Homo sapiens: one gene and its partners. The protein of the gene in region 6 purifies or fractionates together with the protein of the main gene of each other region. This does not show direct contact. Each region holds a gene or a part of one and is shown on either strand. Other genes may lie near its edges.

Region 1 (3,500 bases), on a different chromosome or scaffold from region 6:
TTTGTTTCAGTTTTTGTTGTTGTTGTTGTTTTGTTTTGTTTGCTTTTTGGGACAGGGTCTTGCTGTTTTGCTCAGGCTGGAGTGCAGTGGTGTAGACAAAGCTCACGGCAGCCTTGACCTCCCAGGCTCAAGCCATCCTCCTGCCTCAGCCTCCCGAGTAGCTGAGACCACAGGCATATGCCACCATGCCCAGTTGACTTTTTTATTTTTTGTAGAGGTGGGGTCTCACTATGTTGCCCAGGCTGGTCTCAAACTCCTGGGCTCAAGCAGTCCTCCCACCTTGGCCTCCCAAAGTGTCAGGATTACAGTTGTGAGCCATTGCATCCAGCAAAAGGCTAGAGTTTTTTCAGGATAATAGGTTGAAATCTTCCTGTATCTGTTGATGAAAAGCTATGAATCAGATTGGCAGCATCACAAAGACATAACTTGATCTTTTCAGATTAAAGTATGGACAGCCAACCCCCAACAATTTGTAGAAGATGAAGATGATGATACATTCTCCTATACTGTTAGAATAGCAGCTCAAGACTTGTTGCTGGTAAGTTTACCTTGATACTTCAGCCACATAATTTCTATCAGTCACTTGAGCATTTCTTCTTTTTTGTAGACAACTAATCCAAGGTGAGCAGTGTTGTTGGGTGGCTTTATCTCAGACTTTATTGGGGATGCAAGAGAGTTTCTGAAATGAAATTCGAGACTCAGAAATTCTAAAATCATTGCTACTGGTTCTAACTTAAAACTAAATATTAGATAAAAGAATTGTGCAGACCATAGGGCCGGGGTGCGGGGGAGAATTGTATAGAGGATAAAGTGTTCCATGGAGTAAGGGTAGTTGAATCAAGAACATTTCAGTTTATGGCTGGGCGTGGTGACTCACACCTGTAATCCCAGCACTTGGGGAGGCCGAGGCGGGCAGATCACCTGAGGTCCAGAGTTCAAGACTAGCCTGACCAACATGGAGAAACCCCATCTCTACTAAACATACAAAATTAGCCGGGCGTGATGGCGCATGCCTGTAATCCCAGCTACTCGGGAGGCTGACGCAGGAGAATTGCTTGAACCCGGGAGGCGGAGGTTGTGGTGAGCCAAGATTACACCATTGCGCTCCAGCCTGGGCGACAAGAGTGAAACTTGGTCTCAAAAAAAAAAAAAAAAGCCATTTCAGTTTAATTCACTCTTCAACAAGAATCTATAGCACAGACAAAAGGTTGGCAAACCTAGCAAAACAAAACAGATTGCTGAAAGATTAACATCCAAATACCTGCTCATGTTTTCTTTGCCTCTTCTGACTAGAGCATAGAGTTGTCTCTAGGCTGAAATACTAAGAAGAAACTGCCACTTGCTTCTTGTTGGGTAGGAGATTTGTTCTCTGTTGATGAATCACTTCTCATTATCATTTAGTATTTCTAAGGAGCTGTGAAAGATTATATTCAGTTCCAATTAGTAGATTAGACTTATTTTTCTATCATCAGTCTCCAAGAGAGCAAATATTTGGTCCATTGTCATCCAAAGCTAGATCTATTATTGCTCACTTATGCTCTGCTGAATATAGCCAAAGGAGCCAACTGGTTAGCCTTACAATGCCTAGGCACTACCGAAATACAGATACTACTTTAATTTCATTAGAGACCCTGACCTACTGGTATAACATTTTTAATACAATTAGGGGTTTGCACATGTATGTGAAAGAGCTTGAACCAATCACTTCTAACAGTCATGACTGAAGCGGTTTACAATTAAAATGCATTTAATGGGCACAAACAGATTTATTAGCTCTTCTCTCTCTATAGGCTGTGGCCACAGATTTCCAGAATGAAAGTGCAGCAGCCCTGGCTGCTGCAGCCACTCGACATTTACAAGAAGCTGAGCAAACCAAAAACAGTGGCACTGAGCACTGGTAAGAGTGAGCCGCTAATTGGTTAAGATGCTTTTGTTTACCCCTTCTTAAAAAGTCTTGAAAGGATGGATTTATTTTTATCTTAATTTGAAAATCTGGTTTTAATTTAATAACAGATTTTAATCTCTTATTATTAAAATTTCACTCTTTTCAGCTATAGGTTAGAATGGAAGGGCTTAAGGTAAATGACTCTTTTGGAAGAGATTGTGCTGGAGTGCCCTTTTCTGAATCTTGTTTCCTCAAATATTTATCTCTTTTGGCAGTTTAGTATGTTTTACTAGGCTGTAGTATCCTTTCACAGGTGGAAGATCCATGAGGCATGCATGCTTGCCCTAGGCTCAGTGAAGGCCATCATCACTGACAGTGTGAAAAATGGCAGGATTCATTTTGACATGCATGGGTTCCTGACCAATGTCATCCTTGCAGACCTCAACCTCTCAGGTATGTTTCAGCACGTGCCAGGATTCTAGAAACTCTTTAAACCTGTTGTGGGGTTGGGGGAGGGATCAGCATTAGGAGATATACCTGATGTAAGTGACAAGTTAATGGGTGCAGCACACCAACATGGCACATGTATACATATGTAACCTGCACATTGTGTACATGTACCCTAGAACTCAAAGTATAATATATATATATATATATATATATATAAAGGAAACTCTTTAAACCTGTCATTAACTTGGTTATATTGTTCACTTAGACTGGTAGGCCAGATATTCTTGTGTCCTTTGAGTGAAAATTGTTTGCACCCTACAGCTTGAACTCATCCGAACCTCTAAAACAGCCCAGAGGCCGATTCAAGCTTCACCTAATGACAATCTAATATTGCCTAGTTCATAATTCTTCCGTGATGTTTATGTTTCTTCCCAAATTGGCGTTCCCATTCATGGTTGTTTTTGGCATTTGAATGGAATCCAAATCTGGTTGCTGTACCTTGAGAATTATCGAGTACTGCTCCCATTGTTAAGTCCAGAATGCCCTCAGGCATTCTGTATCAGGCACATTCTTCCTGTTTGTTTCCTGTCATTTTTCTCAAACTTTATTTTTGGCCAATATCCAAATAATTAAAATGTTCCATTCTCATACCCATGTTAGCCATCTGTCTTAAAAAGAAAAAAGTAGGCCAGGCGCGATGGCTCATGCCTCTAATCCCAGCACTTTGGGAGGCTAAGGCAGGTGACTCACCTGAGGTCAGGAGTTCAAGACCAGCCTGGCCAACTTGGCGAAACCCCATCTCTACTAAAAATATAAAAATTAGCTGGGTGTGGTAGCAGGAGCCTGTAGTCCCAGCTACTCAAGAGGCTGAGGCAGGAGAATCACTTGAACCAGGAGGCAGAGGTTGCAGAGAACTGAGATCACACCACTGTATTCCACCTTGGGTGACAGAGCGAGACTTGGTTTAAAAAAAAAAAAAAGGTAGCCCTTTACTATTAGACCGATTTCTTCCGCAATACAGAGCAGTAGCTGAGAATCATTGTTGTCTATGTGGCATTTTCTGCTACTTGCTTCTGCCATGCCATGCCTTTTCTCATCCTTGGAGCCAGATCACCATCCGAAAACACTGCCTTTGCTTTCTCTCTCAGTACTTAAATCATGGAAC
Region 2 (3,500 bases), on a different chromosome or scaffold from region 6:
CCACAGTTTGTTTTACGTTATGAATTATGTTGCATCTCTCCCTTCCCTTATTATCACGCTGGCTGCTGGTATAACTTTTATGAATCATAAAAAATTAAATAACCAGGCTTTTTAAAAAAATAGATCTAAGTTGGCCGGGTACGGTGGCTCAAGCCTGTAATCCGAGCACTTTGGGAGGCCGAGGCGGGTGAATCACGAGGTCAGGAGATTGAGACCATCCTGGCTACACGGTGAAACCCTGTCTCTACTAAAAATACAAAAAATTAGCCGGGTGTGGTGGCGGGCGCCTGTAGTCTCAGCTACTCGGGAGACAGAGGCAGAAGAATGGTGTGAACCCAGGAGGTGGAGCTTTCAGTGAGCTGAGATCGCGCCACTGCACTCCAGCCTGGGCAACAGAGCGAGACTCCATCTCAAAAAAAAAAAAAAGATCTAAGTTTTATTCACTCATCAAATATATGAGTGCCAGCTAATGCCAAGCCTAAGCTTGGCTTGGAGCTACCAGTAATGCAAAATGAATATGAATGGATACTTAAAAGATCTTATAGCCTAGTAGAGAGAGATAAGATCTTTATGTGAATTATTCTCATGAAAGAAAAGTGATAATTAGGAATTTAGAGAACAAAGATTAGATAGACTTTGAAGATTAAACAGCTCTTCTATGAAGTACATGATGGTGGTGCATAGGTTTGGGGTCTATAATTTGGCTGACCAAAGACTCTTGTTTATTTCCTGATTCTTAAGCCACGTTTCACGTTGTTGAGGTGCTGAATAAATTGACCTGTGGATAAGTGAAGTATTTGTAAGTGAAATTCCTCAAGAAATTGAATTTTAAAAAAATATTCAATAGTGCTGAGAAGTGATTTTTGAATGAACATGAGAAGTCAAACTCTAGCATGGTTTACAAAGGTCTTTTGTGACCTGCACCAGCTTCTTGTCCATCATTTCTCATACTCATCTCCACCATATTGGGCACTCCAGCCAAAGCACATGTGGCTCTTGGAAATGTCATGCATTTTAGCTCCATAAATTTTGAAAAATCATTGCCATATATAAAATTTCCTTTAACTCTATCTTCTGCTGAGGTAATGAGTATTTGTCCTTTAACATTCCACTAAAGTATTTTCTCCCTTGGGAAGTCTTCCTGAAACTCATCCCCTCTTATGTGCTCTCTGTGCATTTTCCTATTAGAGTTTGTATCATATTTATTTTCTTTTTGTATATTTATCTGTTTTCCGGACTGATCTAACAGGTCTCTTTCTTGGCAGAGCATACATTTCCAGTGCCTAGCACAGCTCTTGGCACATAGTAGACATTTATAATTTATTCTCAAAATGATTGTTGAACAGTTAAAAATGATATATTACAATGCCTTGAAACTTGTCATCAATTTGCCAGTTGGGGCTGCGTATTCTTTTACAGATGTCTGCCTGTGCTGTTTGGCTATTCATTTATGTACTATTGGAAGAGAAAGCCTGCCAAATGGGGTGGGTGTGTGCGCACATTTGGCTGTCCCAGCAGCTGATACCAAATGTTGGAAATAACTATTTCCATCTGTCATTTTCATCCCCCCCACTCTCCTTCCACTCTAAAATTAATTATGTTAGGAATGATTTCTTACCTCCTTAGATATTTATGTCAGACAAGGGCTCAAGCAAAAGATGTATACTTCGTCATTAAAGTTTCATAATACCTTATGACTCCATGGAATTCTTGTAGCTTTCTTTTCACAGCTGGGATATCTTACATGGCTTGCTAAATTCTTCAGACTTATTCTCATTACATACTTTTCTTCCTTGCAATACGCTCATTGTCTTTCACACATAGTATATTGACAAGTGCTACAGAAACCATGACATTCTCATAGCAATGCACTGATTCTTAGAATACACATTGTTTGTTGTTCAGTGTTAAATTCTATGTTTGAAATCTCAACCTAGGAACACACTGTATCGTATCACATTGTTCTTGGTTGCTTCAACATCTGGGATTAGACCTTTTTCAGTTGTATCATGTTAAAGTTCCTCATTTTAGAATTAAAAACATATAATCTTAGGTTTCATTCGTAACTGAATTCTTGCTTCAACCAAATCTATGTTCTAATACCGGGGTCCCCAACCGCCAGGCCACAGACCAGTACCGGAACTGGTCTTGGCTAGGAACTTGGCTGCACAGTGAGCATTGCTGCCTGAGCTCCGCCTCCTCTCAGATCAGCGGGGGCATTAGATTCTCTTAGGAGCGCAAACCCTATTGTGAACTGTGCATGTTAGGGATCTAGGTTGTGCGCTCCTTATGAGAATCTAATGCCTGGTGATCTTCTGAGGTGGAACGGTTTCACCCCGAAACCATATCCCAACACCCCTCAGTCTGTCTGTGGAAAAATTGTCTTCCACAAAACTGGTCCCTGGTGCCAAAAAAGGTTGTGTAGTGCTGTTCCAATGACCGATCCTGTTTTTGTGCATCATTCATAGTTTTTCTTTCTAATTTTATATCCTATTATATAGGTTTAGGTGAAGTCTGCTTTCTGCCTTAAGCCTACTCCATAGTGGGTTTTCCAAGTAAAGGACAGAGTCATGTACTTCAAAGAGGCTGTTCATGTATACTATGAATTTTTGCAGTCTTTACTATTTATTGAGTGACTACTTATTTAAGTATCTTTGTTTTCTTAGCTCTTTGCACATGAACTTGGGTACAAATCAGAAATTTGCTGTAATTCTAAAGTGACAGATTAGAGGGATCAGGTTAGAAGGGCACAGGGAGGGAATATCTAGGAATTATGAATGTCATGACCCCAAATAATGTTCTAATGCTAAATTGTTTTCTTAAGTGGATAGAAATGAAAATTTTATAAAATTCTGTGCTAGTTTTGTTTCTTGAATTTATCAGTAAATTTTTATCATTGAATATGTTCTCATTTTTTTCTACTGCTTCTATCTTTAAAAGAAAGTGAAGAATTTTATCAGACCATGGTTTAGGGTAGAGCAGTGGCATAATAGGATTATGTATTTCTATGTATATAATTTTGTCCTATTTTTTGAAATTCTAATTGTTTAAATAATTTTAGTATCATTGTTTGTTCTTTTCCTTATTTTCCTGTAATTTTTTCTTGTGGATGGTTTAGAATAGTTTTATACCTGGTATGAAATATAAACCACCTGTAGCAGGCCTAACACATAATTTCATAAATGATCAGATAGAGAGATGCCCTGGATTTATAATGTACAAGGCTCATCATCATATTATGTGACTAAGTTGTAGCATAACCTCTTCTAAATTATTAAATTATAGAATATATCACCAAAAGTTGTGCATGGAAAGTAAAAATTATGGAGTGTATCATTGCTTGAGGCAGGGTTAGCAGGTAGGGTGTTGAGATTAGAAGTAGACAACTCTCCTAGAGACCAATGTCCCAGTCCAAGAACCATTAAGATGAGCCCTGGAGCTACCACTTAATCATTCCTGGGTTGATTTTGATGAGAGACACAACTCCTTTGGTCTTTGTG
Region 3 (2,288 bases), on a different chromosome or scaffold from region 6:
TCCTGGGAAGAGGAACTCCATGCCACACATTTTGCTGTCCCTGGCATTTCCCCACTGGGCCCTCCTCCGGTGTCAGTTTAGGGTGGAGACATCTGGCATCACCAACATCCACTGGGCAAGTCACCCTCGTCAGGACCCCAGGGGAGGGGAGGCCCTGGCAGGAGACAAAGTGATGAACCCTGGCCACTGCTCTTGGCTCCCATCCCCATCAGGGGACGCCCGCAGGCCTGAGGTCCTAGGACCCAGGAGTTTAAAGTCAAGGACAAGCGGCAGCCTTCCATCCCTCCCTGCCACAGGGGCAGCTTGACCAGGGCCCACCCCAACTGCGCTGGCTGACTTCCACGCTGCCCTTGGCAGGTGCTGGGGTCCTCTCGCTTCCTGTGGGGTGGGCTGGGGAGACGGGGGGTCTGGCCTGCATTGGGGAACGTGCAGCGAGAGGGGCCTCAGCCTAGGAGCTGGCGCCTGGCGGAAAAGAAAGAAGACAGAGGCGCAGCGGCAGGTTTCTGTACAGGAAGTCAGATTATACATTTCAGTAACGGGCGGGGTGACGGGGACGGGGCAACAGCGCAGGGGCCACAGGGAGAAGAAGAGATCGAGAGCTGGGGTTTGGCGTAAATCTTACAAAGTGTATAAAGAATCTGTGTTTCTCTACATTAACAAAAACCAAAGGCTACAAGAGCGGTTGTATATACAAAACACGGAGATATTGCTTCACTTGCAAACAGGTTCCAGACCAGATGGGGAGACGAGACAGAGGAGGGGGACAGGGAGGGCCGAGAGGGCGCGTTGCGTGCAGGAGAGGGGAGGGGAGAGGGGAGAGGGGGGGACGGGCTTCTCCCTGCATCAATCAACAGGCAGAGGTGGGAGGCCTGTGCGAGCTGCTGTGTGCGGAGGAGCGGGTGGGCGCTGAGAGCCCGGGGGGTCCGCCTGCCCCGGCCCCCGCTGCCTGGTTCTTCGGGCTTTGGCCCAGAGCACGGTTCTGGGTGGGGACGACGGGCTGGCTGGGCCACCCGGTCACGGAGGGAGGGAGGCAATCGCTCCCTAGAGTCGGCCAAGGAAAAGGGGAGAAGGCGGCGCCGTCCGCCCGTCCTCCTCGCCTCTGGCCAGCCCCGTCCATCCTGCCGCCCTCCCCACCCCGCCAAGACGCTGTGGGGACCCGAGTTTCATGGGTGCAGCAAACCGGGGCTTCTAGCTTTTCCCCGGGCAGGACGGGGTAGCACTGGCTCCTGTCCTTCCTGGGCCCCGGCCCGGCCGTGCAGAGCTCACTGGGAGGGCTGGAACGAGCCGGCCACAGAGGGACAGCAGGGAGGGGCCAGAGGATACCGTGGCGGGGGCGGGCGGAGGACGTGCACGCACGCTGGGTGGAGGCGCAGGGGTCACAGGTTCTGGCAGCACTGCAGCTTGTTGGGCTTCTGTCCGTCCGTGGTGGGCGGCACGCTGATGTCCACCACGTTGTTCCCCGGGGACTCGTCGTGGGCAGCGCGGTCTGCGATCTGTTTCTGTGACACGATGCGGTAGATCTCTGCAAAGGGGGTACAGGGGGACGTGGGGTGAGCCAGCACGTGCCCTGCCTGCCGAGGGGAACCCCTCCCTGCAGGACTCCAGAGGCCCTCTCCAGACCCCCACAGCGCCCCCATCACATCAGGGGTAACAAGGACAGGGGCTGCGCACCCAGCCAGGACCCACATCTGGTCACAGCCAGCCCCGGCCTCTCGCTCCCTAAGATCAGAAGCGCCCTCCTCCCTCAGAGGTAAACTCCCAGAAGCCAAAAGGCTCCAGGTCCCTGAGGCTACCCGCCTCCCCGCAGCGCCAAGAGTTAAGGCAGGGCCCATCCCCAGGAACTGGGGCCAGGGGGTCTCTGTGTCCCCAGTGCCAGCAAGGGCTAGACCTGGTCTGACCCTGTGAAGTGTCCAGGTGGACCGGCAGGTTTAAAAAGCAAAGGTTAGGGGTGGTGGTGGAAAAAAATCAAACAGGCCAGGTGCAGTGGCTCACGCCTGTAATCCCAGCACTTTGGGAGGCTGAGGCAGGAGGATCACTTGAGCCCAGGAGTTCGAGATCAACCTGGACAACATTGTGAAATCCTGTCTCTACTAAAAATTACAAAAATTAGCGGGTGTGGTGGCAGGCACCTGTAATCCCAGCTACTCGGGAGGCTGAGGCAGGAGAATTGCCTGAACCTGGAAGGCGGAGGTTGCAGTAAGCTGAGATCGAGCCACCACACTCCAGCCTGGGCAAAGAGCAAAAATCCATCCTGCCCCGACAAAAAAAAGAAAAAAACAAGCAAACGA
Region 4 (3,500 bases), on a different chromosome or scaffold from region 6:
GCACTGAAACCAAGTGTGTTATATTCAAAATAATTTGTGGATTTTATAACTCATCTAAATAAAGCTCCTCGCTACCTCATTTTGCATTACCTACGACTAGGACTCACGGATTATCAAAAACTCACTTTTCACAAGAAAGGACCCAGCTATTCCTCTATTTAGCTAGCTACCACACTCTTAATGTTCAAATGCAATCTGATTCACTATTTAACTATTTGAACACTCTTACATAATTGCTTTGGTACATAAAATCAGCAACTTCACAATTATTAACAATTACAGCATTTTACTTTTTCAACAATATCTATTCAAACTTCGATTGATAGAATTTCAATGTATAAATCACATTAAGGAGTATTTCAAGTTATATCTAAAATACTTACTGTTATTTGAAAGTAGTAAGTCCAAAGGTCACACCTCTCATACTGACATTGTTACATTAATTCCATATGATAGTAACTTAAGCTATTACATGATGGTAGATCACACACAATTCAGGGATGCTAGAAATGTTAAAAGCACACCTTCCAAAGACCCAAGCTAAATGGCAGATTTTGGCAAATTACTAAGGACAAAGGTGAACTTCTGAACATCCCTAAATTGGAGAGCAATTTGGCAGTGCCCACCAAAATTCAAATTGTACTTACCTTTGACATGGCTAGTCCATTTCTAGGAATTTATTGTAGATGTACAAAATGTTCTATTAACAAAATATTAACTATAGCACTGTTTCTTAAGCAAAAGATTGGAATGTCCATTAATATGGAGGCTGGTTAAATACCTTGTAATACTATGACAGGCTACATGTTTAGCGGTATTATGGCAGCAATCTCTGGAAAGTGACTCCCTGGGCTCTAATCCTGAGCCCTACCACTTATAAACTGTGTGACTGTTGGACATTTAATCATCCCGTGCCTAGTTTTCCTCATTTGTTAAATATAGAAAAATAGTGCCTATCTCATAGGTTGTTATGAGGCTTCCATGAGTTAATAAAACTAAAGTATTAAGAAAGCATTTGGATCAGGAGTAAGCTCTCAATAAATGTTACATATGATGATGAGGGTATATTAATACAATTGAATACTAAACTATCATTAAAAAGAATGAGGCAGTTTTAACTGTATCAATGTGAAAAGATCTCCAACGTAATACTCAAGCGAAAAATGTAAGGTCCAGAATAATACGAAGAGGTGCTACCATTTGTGGATAAATATATGGGGGAAGAAAAGAATAAGGATGAGGGGAGAGAAAACACACTTGTATGAATATATAAATTTTACCATATTTGTACATGTATTACCCATTCAACTGAATTAAAAATATTGTTGGATGAGTAAATGAATGTTAAAACAACTGAGCCAAGTAAAACTATTATATATTGCACCTAATTGACTGAGCAAATAATAGCACATATTATTATTACATATATATTTTTCTGAGACAGGGTCTGGCTCTGTCACCCAGGGTCTGCAGTGGCACGATCTCAGCTCACTGCAACCTCTGCCTCCCAGGCTCAAGCAATCCTCCCACCTCAGCCTCCCGAATAGCGGGAACTAGATGTGTGTGCCACCACGCCTGGCTAATTTTTTTTTTTTTTTTTTTTGTACAGACATGGTTTTGCCATGTTGCCCTTCAATTCCTGGGCTCAAGCAATCCGCCTGCATCGGCCTCCCAAAGTGCTGGGATTACAGGTGTGAGCCACTGCACCCAGCTGGCAAATATATATACGGTCCTTATGTGCTAGTTATTATTCCAATCGCTTCTATTATTCACAACATCCAATGAAGTTAAATACTCTTATTATCCTTATTTTAAAGTTGAGAAAAATGCAATGCAAAAAGACACAAGTAACTCCTCCAAAGTCACACCACTAGGAAGCAGAGCCAGGATTTGACTCACACAGTCTGGTTTCCTTCATCTCTTTGTTATATTAATACTACTCTAAAATTATTTTTATTTACATATATCCCAACTCTTGTAAAAAAAACTTTGGACAGCTTACATTAAAGCACATATATGCAATTAATAAAACTGGTAATGAAAAGGGGAAGTAATACCAATGTGAGAAAAAAATACAGCTACTTTAAGTATGCAACAAATCCAACTCTAAAGCATCTGCTATTTTCTGTCTAGGCTTTGAATGATGTATTCTACGGAGATACTTTTAAAAGGACAGAAATCAAGTATTAAACAATTATAAGTACTTTTTATTTTGCTTCTTTAAAGAAGTTCTTGTTTAAAGTTTTCTTAAGGCAAGTTAATCTTGTAATCCAGTTTATATGCCAAAACCCAAATAGGGACTTTTCTTATGATTCTGTCATATGATTAAGTCAGGTGACAGATCCCACACTTGTGCAATGTGCTCTACACTCTAAGGCAGAAAGCGTGTCGATAGCACTGACTATCCATACCAAAAATAACATGCCAAATTTGTAATCCTATCTAGTAGTCCCTATCATTTTTTGGTACATTTTTCTTTTCTTTTTTTTTTTCTTACTTTTGAGACAGGGTGTCGCTCTGACGCCCAGGCTGGAGTGCAGTGGCACATTCGCAGTTCACTGAAACCTTGAATGCCCCGGGATCAAGTGATCCTCCCACCTCAGCCTCTTGAGTAGCTGGGACTACAGGTGCATGCCATCGTGCCCAAATAATTTTTTTAATTTTTAGTTTTTACTGGTAGAGGGGGGTCTTGCCATGTTGCCCAGGATGGTCTCCAACACCGGGCTCAAGCGATCTACCTGCCTCAGCCTCCCAAAGTGCTGGGATTACAGGCGTGAGCCACCATGCCCAGCCTGTTTTTCCTAATTACAGAAACACTTCATGTCCACTGTAAAAATAAAAACATATAATGTAAAGTGTAAGGAAGAAAGTAAATCATCTTAGTGCCCATTGTTTCCCATAATCCATCATATACACAGACATGTACAAACATGTAGTTTTATATAAATATGTTACTATGGATATTCTGTCTCTTTCCTTTTCTGCTTATTTCCTCTTTCCAACGGTGACAACCAGGTAAAAATATACAAAACTCATGGTGTTTTTCAACTGGTTTTATAAAAAATGAGTTATCATTACAAATGTTTCTCTGTACTTTGTATTTTTTTTTCTTAAGATACATGATGGCCTGGGCAATAAGGTGAAACCCCGTCTCTACCAAATATACAAAAAATTAGCCAGGTGTGGTGGTGCACACCTGTAGCCCCAGCTACTCTGGAGGCTGAGGCGGGAGGATAGCTTAAACCTAAGAGGAGGAAGTTGCAGTGAGCCAAGACAGCACCAGTACACTCCAATCTGGGTAACAGAGCAAGATCCTGTCTCAGGAAAAAAAAAAAAAAAAAGACACATGATAGAAATCCTTTCAGAATGTACTTGGAAATCCTTTCTAATCACCAGTAGATTTAACTCCTACCATTTAATCACTTCACAACATTCCATAAAATGCCTCGGCCATAATTTACATAACAATACCCCTATTAACAGGCATTCCCTTTGTTTCC
Region 5 (3,500 bases), on a different chromosome or scaffold from region 6:
AAGCATACAACAGTGTTAAATCACTTTTCACCATTTTATCCTACCTAGAAATACCTTTCCCTCTCAGCACCAACACTGATATGTCAAACCAGATTATAAACGCTGAATAATGGGAATAGTAAAGAAACTGTTATACGTACTTACATACAAGAATAGTGGTTATATGCAATAAACAGAAAGTGGAGGAAACAGTATCTGTCACATACTTACAAGAAAGCCTTCTCAAAATTAGTATGGGGAAGTTCCAGGACTCAGTGGCACAAAGAGCTCTCTGTTAGTATTTCCTAGCTCAGGTTTGTACTAAGCAATAATGACGGCTAACATTTTCTGACCTTTAATGTGTCAAGAATTGTTTGAAGGCACTTACTATCATATATGCAGAAGAAACTGGGGCTGAAATACACCCAGAATCTGTGTCGTTAATCATTATATAAGATGGCATCCCAATGTATCAATACTTATTAATATTTGAGTAAACACTTAACTGAGTAAACATCTGATTATCATTCAGGATTCACATAATTCTAGTAGTTGGGAGTCCGAAATTCACAAAAGCTATTCCTTTCTGTCATCTAAAATCAGACCTCACTCTTTCTCACTGACAGGTTTGCAAGTTTCTCCCCCTCAGAAGTCTGGTCTCGGCCGGGCGCGGTGGCTCACCCCAGTAATCCCAGCAATTTGGGAGGCCAAGGTGGGCAAATCACAAGGTCAGGTGTTCGAGATTTAGTGAAATCCCATCTCTACTACTAAAAATACAGAAAATTAGCTGGGCATGGTGGCAGGCGCCTGTAATCCCAGCTACTCAGGAGGCTGAGGCAGGAGAATCGCTAGAACCCAGGAGGCGGAGGCTGCAGTGAGCCGAGACTGCACCACTGCACTCCAGCCTGGACAACAGTGTGAGACTCCATCTCGGAAAAAAGAAAAGGTCTGGTCTTTTTGTCTCGCTAGTTTGGCTCAAGTATTTGATAGTAATTTAAATAAAACGCTCAATTCAAACCACATTGAGGAAACATACAAGTACCTATAAAGATTCCTTCTTAATTTACTATTTAAAGTTTTAAAATACGTGATTACAACTGCTAGATATGACATTAGTGAAAGCTATGTAACACCCAATATACCTAACCTTTTATTATGAAAACTTAGATTTTGATTTCTCCAAATCTTGAGAATGAGAGGTAGGACTAGGGGGAAGGTTAAAATGGTGTCAGACAAGTCCAGTTATGCATCATTTACCAAAGGGAAACTTCCTGAGAGATGCACAGTGAGGTGATTTTGTTGTTGTGCAAACATCACAGAGTGGACTTACACAAACCTAGATGGTATAGTCTATTGCTCTTAGGCTACAAAGCATGATGCACAGTATGTTACTGTACTGAATACTGCAGGCTACTGTAACACAATGTGCTTGTATATCTAAACATATCTAAACACAGAAAAGGCACAATGTATATACAGTAATAAAGATAAAAATATTTTTCTTTCTTCAAGAATAAATTAACCTTTGCTTACTTAACATTTTTTACTTTAGAAACTTAAAAAAATTTTTAAACATTTTGAATTTTCTAGTAACGATTAGCTTAAAACAAAAGCATATCATACAGCTGTACAATATTTTCTTTATATCCTTATCCTATTAAGCCTTTTCCTATTTTTAAAAATATTTTTCACTTTTTAAACTTTTGTTAAAAACTAAGCCATATACACACACATTAGCCTAGGCCTACAGAGTCAGGATCATCAGTAACACTATATTCCGCCTCCACATCTTCACTGGAAGGTCTTCAGGGGCAGTAACATGCATGGAGCCATCACCTCCCAGGATAACGAAGCTTTTTTTCCTGGAATGCCACCTGAAGGACATGCCTGAGTCGGTTTTAACTAGTTTTTTAAAATAAGAATATATTCCAGGGCCCTGCGTAGTGACTCAAGCCTGTAATCCCAACACTTTGGGAGGCCGAGGCAGGCGGATCACCTGAGGTCGGGAGATCAATACCATCCTGGCTAACACGGTGAAACCCCGTCTCTACTAAAAATACAAAAAATTAGCCAGGTGTGGTGGTGCACGCCTATAATCCCAGCTACTCAGGAGGCTGAGGCAGGAGAATCACTTGAACCTGAGAGGCAGAGGTTGTGGTGAACTGAGATCGCGTCACTGCACTCCAGCCTGGGCAACAAGAGCGAAACTCTGTCTCAAAAAAAAGAAAAAAAAAAGGTAAATATATAACATAGCTGTTTATTACCATTATCAAGTATTATGTACTCTATATAATTGTGTTATACTTTTTTTTTTTTTTTTTTTTTTTTTTGGAGATGCAGTCTCACTCTTTCGCCCAGGCTGGAGAGCAGTGGTGCAATCTTTGCTCACTGCAACCTCCACCTCCCAGGTTCAAGTGATTCTCCTGCCTCAGCCTCCTGAGTAACTGGGATTACAGGCATATGCATGCCACCAAGCCCAGCTAATTTTTGTATTTTTAGTAGAGATGGGGTTTCACCATGTTGGCCAGGCTGGTCTCGAACTCCTGACCTCAAGTGGTCCACCTGCCTTGGCCTCCCAAAGTGCTGGGACTACAGGCATGAGCCACCACGCGTGGCCTGTTGTACTTTTACACAACTGGCAGTGCAATAGGTTTACACCAGCACTACCACAAACAAGAGTAATGCATTGCACTATGACATTATGCCTATGATGTCACTAAGTGACAGGAATTTCTCAGTTCCATTCTAATCTTACAGGACCACTAACTACCTTACATGAAGTCCACTGTTGACCAAAACATCATTTGACAGAACATATGACTATACTCAAACCAAGAAAGTGTTTTGGTCACCTTGCAACTGACCAGATGGGAACTTCTGTTACTTAGGGATATTCTGATTAACATTCTTAGAATAAAATTCCTTTATGGTGAAATATGCTATGTTAAAACCTCCCAATTATGCAAGGGTGGGCATGCATCAAAAAGCAAACGCTATTCCCTCTGGGATATGCACATATCATCAATATCTCCACTTGTCTTTGCACAGATGCAGGTAAATTTGGCAAGGGAGGGTTCTGAGGCCAGTGATGTTCACGAAGGTTATACATACTCTCACAAATCACTGTGCTCCACATGTGAATAGTGCAGAGGCAGAATAAAGGACAACTGCCCCCGCCCTTTTTCCTACTGTATGACAAGTACCCATCTAGACCAAGGACTGACTTCCTCTATCAAATCAGGAAAAAACTGGCTACTGGTTATTTATACTTGAATAAGCCTTGAAATGGCTATTTAAAGCTGCTAGAAGCAGTGGCTGCTGCCTAAGGGTATCAATCTGTATCCAATCACAAATCCTAGAAGACTCCACTGGGAATCCCCATCTACCACACCACTGCTAAACCTACTGACATTTACAAACTATTTCTTCCCCTTGCCTCCCTATATGCCACCAACATTCGAGAATAACCTTTCAGAAATACATAACAGAATTTAAGTCAGTATTTCTAAGAATCTTAACAT
Region 6 (3,500 bases):
ACGATGAGCTGGTGTTCCTCAGCCCCCTGATGTCCTTGTTGGTTGTTATCAAAGTCATGGGAGGAAATGGGGAGAATCTTAGCTATGTCCCAGGTCCTAAAAGGCTAAATAACTTGCCAAGGGCCACACAGTGTTAGAGAACAGAACATTTCTTCTGGAACCCAGCAGTTTCTGACTCCAGGTTTTGGTTTCCTCACCTGACCAGGCTTCATAACATCCTCGTGTTTTCACCCTTACCTCTTGTCCCACAGGAGTCTGAGGGGGGCCTCTACATCTGTATGAACACGTTTCTGGGCTTTGGGAAACAGTATGTGGAGAGACATTTCAATAAGACCGGCCAGCGAGTCTACTTGCACCTCCGGCGGACCCGGCGCCCGGTAGGAGCAGGGCTGGGGCAAGGCCTGGGTACATTGTCTGTTCCATTCTGACCTCCTATTGGACTCAGTTTCTTTTTTTCACCTACTTTTGTGTCATTAAAGCTTGGCACAGATGTTTTTTAGCTTTATTCCGTTCTGAGATGAAGCACTACCTCCTTCCGTCCCTCCTCCCGACTTGTTCCTTCGCTCGTGCTCATTGCTGATCCAGCCCTTCCTGCTTCTTTACAGAAAGAGGAGGACCCTGCTACAGGCACTGGAGACCCACCCCGGAAGAAGCCCACGCGGCTGGCTATTGGTGAGCACCGCTGCAGTCCTATTCTTCTCCCTGAGCTGGTCTTTCTGGCTCTCAGCAGCACCAGGAAAGCCCCAAAGAGTGGGCCTGATTGATGGCCCTAGAACTCTGGATGGGGCAAGTGAGGTGCTGGCTCGGAGGAGGGACATTGACCTGTTGTCATTGCTCTACTCTCCCTCTTCTTCCCTATCCTTCCAGGTGTTGAAGGCGGATTTGACCTTAGCGAGGAGAAGTTTGAATTAGACGAGGATGTGAAGATTGTCATTTTGCCAGATTACCTGGAGATTGCCCGGGATGGACTGGGGGGACTGCCTGACATTGTCAGAGATCGGGTATGACTGCCCCCTATGCTACCCAAGATTCTAGAGCAAGATGGGCCAGGGTAGTGGTGTCTTAGGCAAGCACTGACAAAGCTGAAGGCCAAGGGGAAGAGGGGCATGTGGGGCAGGGGGTTGGGTATTGCCTCTGACCCTCTGCTTCCCCCAGGTGACCAGTGCAGTGGAGGCCCTACTGTCGGCCGACTCAGCCTCCCGCAAGCAGGAGGTGCAGGCATGGGATGGGGAAGTACGGCAGGTGTCTAAGCATGCCTTCAGCCTCAAGCAGTTGGACAACCCTGCTCGAATCCCTCCCTGGTGAGGCCTGGCCCCTCTGCCTCGGGCACCACCCCCAGAGCAAGGACAAGGAGCCCACTTTTCTGGGGGATCTGGTGGGAGAGAGGGTAGGGAGCAGGACAGGAAGGGAAGCTTGGAAATGAACACGACATGGGGATGGCCAGAGGAGAAGAGAGAGAGACCTTGGATTGGCGGGGGGCCTGCAGAGCCCTCTCTCTCTGCCACTCCCTCAAATCCCCGACCCACATTTCTGCTGATTCTCTTCTCTGTGGGTTAGTGGCTGGAAGTGCTCCAAGTGTGACATGAGAGAGAACCTGTGGCTCAACCTGACTGATGGCTCCATCCTCTGTGGGCGACGCTACTTCGATGGCAGTGGGGGCAACAACCACGCTGTGGAGCACTACCGAGAGACAGGCTACCCGTTAGCTGTCAAGCTGGGCACCATCACCCCTGATGGAGCTGGTACAGCCTCCCCTCCTCCAGCCACTCTCATGCTTAAATATATTTCATTTGTTAGTAATTTCGTGTGACATGTATAATACATGAATGCATTATCTTGATAAGAAAGGAAAGTAGTCAGGTGCGGTGGCTCATGTTTGCAATCCCAACACTTTGGGAGGCCAAGGCAGGAGAATTGCTTGAGCCTAGGAGTTCGAGACCAGCCTGGGCAACATAGTGAGACCTCATCTCTCCAAAAAAGAAAAAAAAAGAAAAATTGGCTGGGTGTGGTAGCTCCTGCCTGTAGTCTCACCTACTCAGGAGGCTGAGGCAGGAGGATTGTTTGAGCACCCGGGAGGTTGAGGCTGCAGTGAGCTATGATTGCACCACTGGACTCCAGCCTGGGCTACAGAGACCCTGTCTCAAAAAAGGAAAATACTGCAGATGAGACTAAATTTTTGATTACTCCCCACTCAAATCCTCATCCCTTTCCTACCAAGCCTGTCTTACCTTATCCTATACAGGTAGAATCAGAATCACAAGTAATTCCAACCCTCACCCGGTTTCATCTGTCTTCCCTGACCGTCAGCCCCAGAAGGGCCATGACCGCACTCATATTACTCATATTCAAGGGAACCAAGAGGGTGGACCTTACTGGCTCTCCTTCTGTCCCCTCAAGTCCCTTCTGTGCAAGGGATGGGATGGTGGCCTGGCTAGTCCTGAGCCACTTCCCCTGATTCTCTTCCTGCCTCCTGCTCTAGACGTGTACTCATATGATGAGGATGACATGGTCCTGGACCCCAGCCTGGCTGAGCACCTGTCCCACTTCGGCATCGACATGCTGAAGATGCAGAAGGTGAGACCCCCTTCAACTTCAGATTCTTCTACTTCCTGCCCCTGTGAGGGCCCTTCCTCTTTGCCTGAGGCTGAGGTAGGGTTTTGGAGAAATCTTCTAGTTAACCCCATCCCCAAGATACACAGGCTTCTTTTAAATATCTAAAATCATTTATTCAGTGAATAGTACTGAGTACCTACTATGTGCTAGAGGCTGTGTGAATAAGACAGATGTGGTTTTTGCTTACAAGAGTTCTACTCTAGAAGAAAAGGCAGACATTAGTCACATTCCCAGATAAATAAGTGAATAGTTGCAAACTGGTGGGCACTGTGAAAGAGAGGCGGAGGGTACTACAGTAATTGACAGCAGGGTGGCCTGGCCTAGTTTAGGGATCAGGGACATTTCCCTGAGGAAGCGATGCTTAACTGACAATGTGAAGGAGGTTAGGGGTAACTTAAGGATGGGAAAAACATTTCAGGTAGAAGGAAATTTTATTCCTCATTCAAGCAGAGGCCCTGATGACTAACGGGCCTCTGGGACAATTATGTGTGGCCTTCCAGAACTTGAACTGGACGATACTCAACATACCTCCCATGTTTGAGCCTGTAATTCCACAAATTCTAGGCCACAGTTGAGTATCATCCTAGACTCAGTGAGAGATCGAGGTAAAAACTACAGGGTTGAGTTTCTCACTCAGTCTGAAGTGCCCCTTCTCACACAGACAGACAAGACGATGACTGAGTTGGAGATAGACATGAACCAGCGGATTGGTGAATGGGAGCTGATCCAGGAGTCAGGTGTGCCACTCAAGCCCCTGTTTGGGCCTGGCTACACAGGCATCCGGAACCTGGGTAACAGCTGCTACCTCAACTCTGTGGTCCAGGTGCTCTTCAGCATCCCTGACTTCCAGAGGAAGTGAGTAGTGCCCTCTCCTTCCCCAGGCCCCC
Region 7 (3,500 bases), on a different chromosome or scaffold from region 6:
ATAGTACTTATTGTATACAGATTATGTTCCAATTCTTCAGTTGGGTATAGGGTTCACTGGTGTTGATTTAATTTTATGCTTTATGACATATATGTCACATATATTCTTTTGTATACCCAAAATATTGCCAAATTAAACATCTTTAAAAAGCAAAAGGTAGCCAGGCATGGTGGCTCATGCCTGTAATCCAAGCACTTTGGGAGGCTGAGGCAGGCAGATCACCTGAGGTCAGGAGTTCAAGACCAGCCTGGCCAACATGGTAAAACCCCGTCTCTACTAAAAATACAAAAATTAGCCAGGCATGGAGGCACGCAACTGTAATACCAGGTACTGGGGAGGCTGAGGCAGGACAATTGCTTGAACCTGGGAAGTGGAGGCTGCAGTGAGCCAAGATTCCACCATTGCATCCAGCCTGGGCAACAGGGCAATACTCCATCCCCCTCCCCCAAAAAAAAATTAAAAAAAAAAAAGCAAACAGCCCTCAATAGGCAAAACAATCTTATAAAAGAACAAACATGGAAGACTCATAATTCATGATTAAAAACTTATTATAGTAGGCCGAGCACAGTGGTTCACACCTGTAATCCCACTACTTTGGTAGGCCAAGGCGGGCGGATCACCTGAGGTCAGGAGTTCGAGACCAGCCTGACCAAAATGGCAAAACCCTGTCTCTAGCATGGTGGCGCATGCCTGTAATCCCAGCTATTCAGGATGCTGAGGCAAGAGAATTACTTGAACCTGAGAGAAGGAAGTTGCAGTAAGCTGAGATCGTGCCACTGCACTCCAGCCTGGGTGACAGAGTGAGACTCTTTCTCAAAAAAAAAAAAAAACCAGAAAACTTATTACAAAGCTATGGTAATCAAAACAGTGCAGTGTTCCATAAAGATAGTCATACAGACCAACCAAATAGAATTGAGAGTTCACAAATAAATCTATTCATCTATGACCAATTGATTTTCTAGAAGAGTGCCAAGACCATTCAACAGGGAAAGAATAGTATTTTCAACAAACAGTGCCAGGATAACTGTATTTCTACATTCAAAAGAACTAAGTTAGACCCCTACCTCAAACCATATAAAAAAATTACTCAAGCTGGGTACAGTGGTTCACGCCTGTAATCCCGGCACTTTGGGACGCCGAGGCTGGCAGATCACCTGAGGTCGGGAGTTTGAGACCAGCCTGACCAATATGGAGAAACCCTGTCTCTACTAAAAATACAAAATTAGTCAGGCATGGTGGCGCATGCCTGTAATCCCAGCTACTTGGGAGGCTGAGAGAGGAGAATCACTTGAACCCAGGAGGCGGAGGTTGCAGTGAGCCGAGATTGCACCACTGCACTCCAGCCTGGATGACAAGAGGGAAACTCCGTCTCAAAAAACAAAAAAAAAAATTAACTCAAAATGGATCAATGACCTAAACACAGCACTAAGACCATTAACGCTCTTAGAAGAAAACACGGCAGTAAATCTTCATGGCCATAAGTTTGGATTCTTAATATGACACCAAAAACACAAGCAACAGAAGAAAAAACAGATAAACCAGACTTCAAAATTAAAAACTTTTGTGCATCAAAGGGATGCACAAAATCTACAGAAAGGAAGAAAGCATTTGCAAATCATATATCTGATAAGTGTTTAATATCCAGAATGCATAAAGAACTCCTAGAACTCAATAAGAAAAAGACAACACAATATAAAAATAGGCAAAGGACTGAACAGACATTTCTCTAAAGAAGATGTACAGATGACCAACAAGCAACATTCAAAGATGTTCAATATCATTAGTCATTAAGGAAATACAAATCAAAACCACTATGAGATACCATTTTATACTCCCTTGGATGGCCATAATCCAAAAAAAACCAGAAAATAACTAGTGTTGGTAAAGATGTGGAGAAATTGGAACCCTGCACAATGCTGGTGGAAACGTAAAATGGTGCAGCCATTTTGGAAAAAAATTTGTCAGTTTCCCAAAAAGTTAAACATAGACTCACCATTTGTCCCAGCAATCACGCTCTTTTGTATATACCAAACATTGCCAAATCAAGTATTGAGTATATACACTCCTAGGTATATACTCAAAAAAACTGAAGACAGGGACACAAACAGATACTTGCACATCAGTGTTCACTGCAGCATTATTCCCAATAGCCAAAGGGTAGAAACAATCCAAGTGCCTATACGAAATGTGGCATATACATACAATGGAGTATTACTCTGCTATGGAAAGGAATGAAGTTCTGATGTGCTTTAACAAGGATGAACCTTGAAAACCTTACACTAAGTGAAATAAGCCAGACAAAAAGGACAAATATTGTATGATTCCACTTATATGAAATATCCAGAATAGGCAAATTCATAGAGACAGAAAGTAGATTCAGGCTATCAGCAATGGAAGGAAGTAGGGAATGGGCGTGTATTCCTTAATGTGTAGAGTTTTTATTTGGGGTGATGAAAAAATTTTGGAAATGGATAGTGGAGATGGTTGCACAACATTGTGAATGTAATTAATGCAACTAATTGTACACTTAAAAATTGGTAAGGCTGGGCGCAGTGGCTCATGCCTGTAATTCCAGCACTTTGGAAGGCCAAGGAGGGCAGATCACCTGAGGTCGGGAGTTCGAGACCAGCCTGATCAACATGGAGAAACCCCGCCTCTATTAAAAATATAAAATTAGCTGGGCATGGTGGCACATGCCTGTAACTGGGGAGTCTGAGGCAGGAGAATCACTTGAACCTGGGAGGCGGAGGTTGTGGTGAGCCGAGATCGTGCCATTGCACTCCAGCCTGGGCAACAAGAGCAAAACTGCGTATTAAAAAAAAAAAAAATATATATATATATATATATATATATATATATATATATATATATATATATATATAGTTAGGCTGGGTGCAGTGGCTCACACTTGTAATCCCAGTACTTTGAGAGGCCAAGGCAGGTGGATCACTTGAGGCCAAGAGTTTGAGACCAGCCTGGCCAACGTGGCAAAACCCTGCCTCTACTAAAAATACAAAAATTAGCCCAGTGTAGTGGCGTGCACCTGTAGTCCCAGCTACACAGGAGGCTGAGGCATGAGAATCCTTGAAGCCAAGAGGCGGAGGTTGTGGCGACTGAGATGGCGCCGCTTCACTCCAGCCTGGGCAACTGTCTCAAATAATAAAAATTTTTAAAAAATTGTTAAAATGGCAAATTGTTATACATAGTTCACCATAAGAAAAAAAATCTTGGGCTGGGCGTGGTGGCTCATGCCTGTAATCCCAGCACTTTGGGAGGCTGAAGTGGATGGATCATCTGAGGTGAGGAGTTCAAGACCAGCCTGGCCAATATGGTGAAACCCTGTCTCTACTAAAAATACAAAAATTAGGCCAGGCGCGGTGGCTCACGCCTGTAATCCCAGCACTTTCGGAGGACAAGGCAGGTGGATCACGAGGTCAGGAGATTGAGACCATCCTGGCTAACACGGTGAAACCCCATCTCTGATAAAAATACAAAAAATT

The links.
Region 1: the proteins of USP5 (region 6) and IPO9 fractionate together in Homo sapiens (co-fractionation; one large-scale study listed by BioGRID). This does not show direct contact.
Region 2: the proteins of USP5 (region 6) and ITM2B purify together in Homo sapiens (co-immunoprecipitation; one large-scale study listed by IntAct). This does not show direct contact.
Region 3: the proteins of USP5 (region 6) and RAB11B fractionate together in Homo sapiens (co-fractionation; one large-scale study listed by BioGRID). This does not show direct contact.
Region 4: the proteins of USP5 (region 6) and ATP6V1A fractionate together in Homo sapiens (co-fractionation; one large-scale study listed by BioGRID). This does not show direct contact.
Region 5: the proteins of USP5 (region 6) and PPP1CB fractionate together in Homo sapiens (co-fractionation; one large-scale study listed by BioGRID). This does not show direct contact.
Region 7: the proteins of USP5 (region 6) and DCTN5 fractionate together in Homo sapiens (co-fractionation; one large-scale study listed by BioGRID). This does not show direct contact.

What each region holds. Positions count from the first base shown.
Region 1 is NC_000001.11:201,856,657-201,860,156, forward strand, and holds part of IPO9 (importin-9), read left to right. Parts: intron 1-439; coding exon 440-538; intron 539-1,790; coding exon 1,791-1,897; intron 1,898-2,198; coding exon 2,199-2,338; intron 2,339-3,500. UniProt on the Homo sapiens protein: Nuclear transport receptor that mediates nuclear import of proteins, such as histones, proteasome and actin. Serves as receptor for nuclear localization signals (NLS) in cargo substrates.
Region 2 is NC_000013.11:48,250,206-48,253,705, forward strand, and holds part of ITM2B (integral membrane protein 2B), read left to right. Parts: intron 1-3,500. UniProt on the Homo sapiens protein: Plays a regulatory role in the processing of the amyloid-beta A4 precursor protein (APP) and acts as an inhibitor of the amyloid-beta peptide aggregation and fibrils deposition. Plays a role in the induction of neurite outgrowth.
Region 3 is NC_000019.10:8,402,647-8,404,934, reverse strand, and holds the end of RAB11B (ras-related protein Rab-11B), read right to left. Parts: intron 1,523-2,288; coding exon 1,377-1,522; 3' UTR 501-1,376; downstream 1-500. UniProt on the Homo sapiens protein: The small GTPases Rab are key regulators of intracellular membrane trafficking, from the formation of transport vesicles to their fusion with membranes.
Region 4 is NC_000003.12:113,753,535-113,757,034, reverse strand, and holds part of ATP6V1A (V-type proton ATPase catalytic subunit A), read right to left. Parts: intron 1-3,500. UniProt on the Homo sapiens protein: Catalytic subunit of the V1 complex of vacuolar(H+)-ATPase (V-ATPase), a multisubunit enzyme composed of a peripheral complex (V1) that hydrolyzes ATP and a membrane integral complex (V0) that translocates protons.
Region 5 is NC_000002.12:28,758,330-28,761,829, reverse strand, and holds part of PPP1CB (serine/threonine-protein phosphatase PP1-beta catalytic subunit), read right to left. Parts: intron 1-3,500. UniProt on the Homo sapiens protein: Protein phosphatase that associates with over 200 regulatory proteins to form highly specific holoenzymes which dephosphorylate hundreds of biological targets.
Region 6 is NC_000012.12:6,855,150-6,858,649, forward strand, and holds part of USP5 (ubiquitin carboxyl-terminal hydrolase 5), read left to right. Parts: intron 1-205; exon of another isoform or gene 206-251; coding exon 252-377; intron 378-479; exon of another isoform or gene 480-605; coding exon 606-672; intron 673-867; coding exon 868-1,001; intron 1,002-1,155; coding exon 1,156-1,301; intron 1,302-1,557; coding exon 1,558-1,742; intron 1,743-2,479; coding exon 2,480-2,574; intron 2,575-3,274; coding exon 3,275-3,468; intron 3,469-3,500. UniProt on the Homo sapiens protein: Deubiquitinating enzyme that participates in a wide range of cellular processes by specifically cleaving isopeptide bonds between ubiquitin and substrate proteins or ubiquitin itself.
Region 7 is NC_000016.10:23,644,466-23,647,965, reverse strand, and holds part of DCTN5 (dynactin subunit 5), read right to left. Parts: intron 1-3,500. UniProt on the Homo sapiens protein: Part of the dynactin complex that activates the molecular motor dynein for ultra-processive transport along microtubules.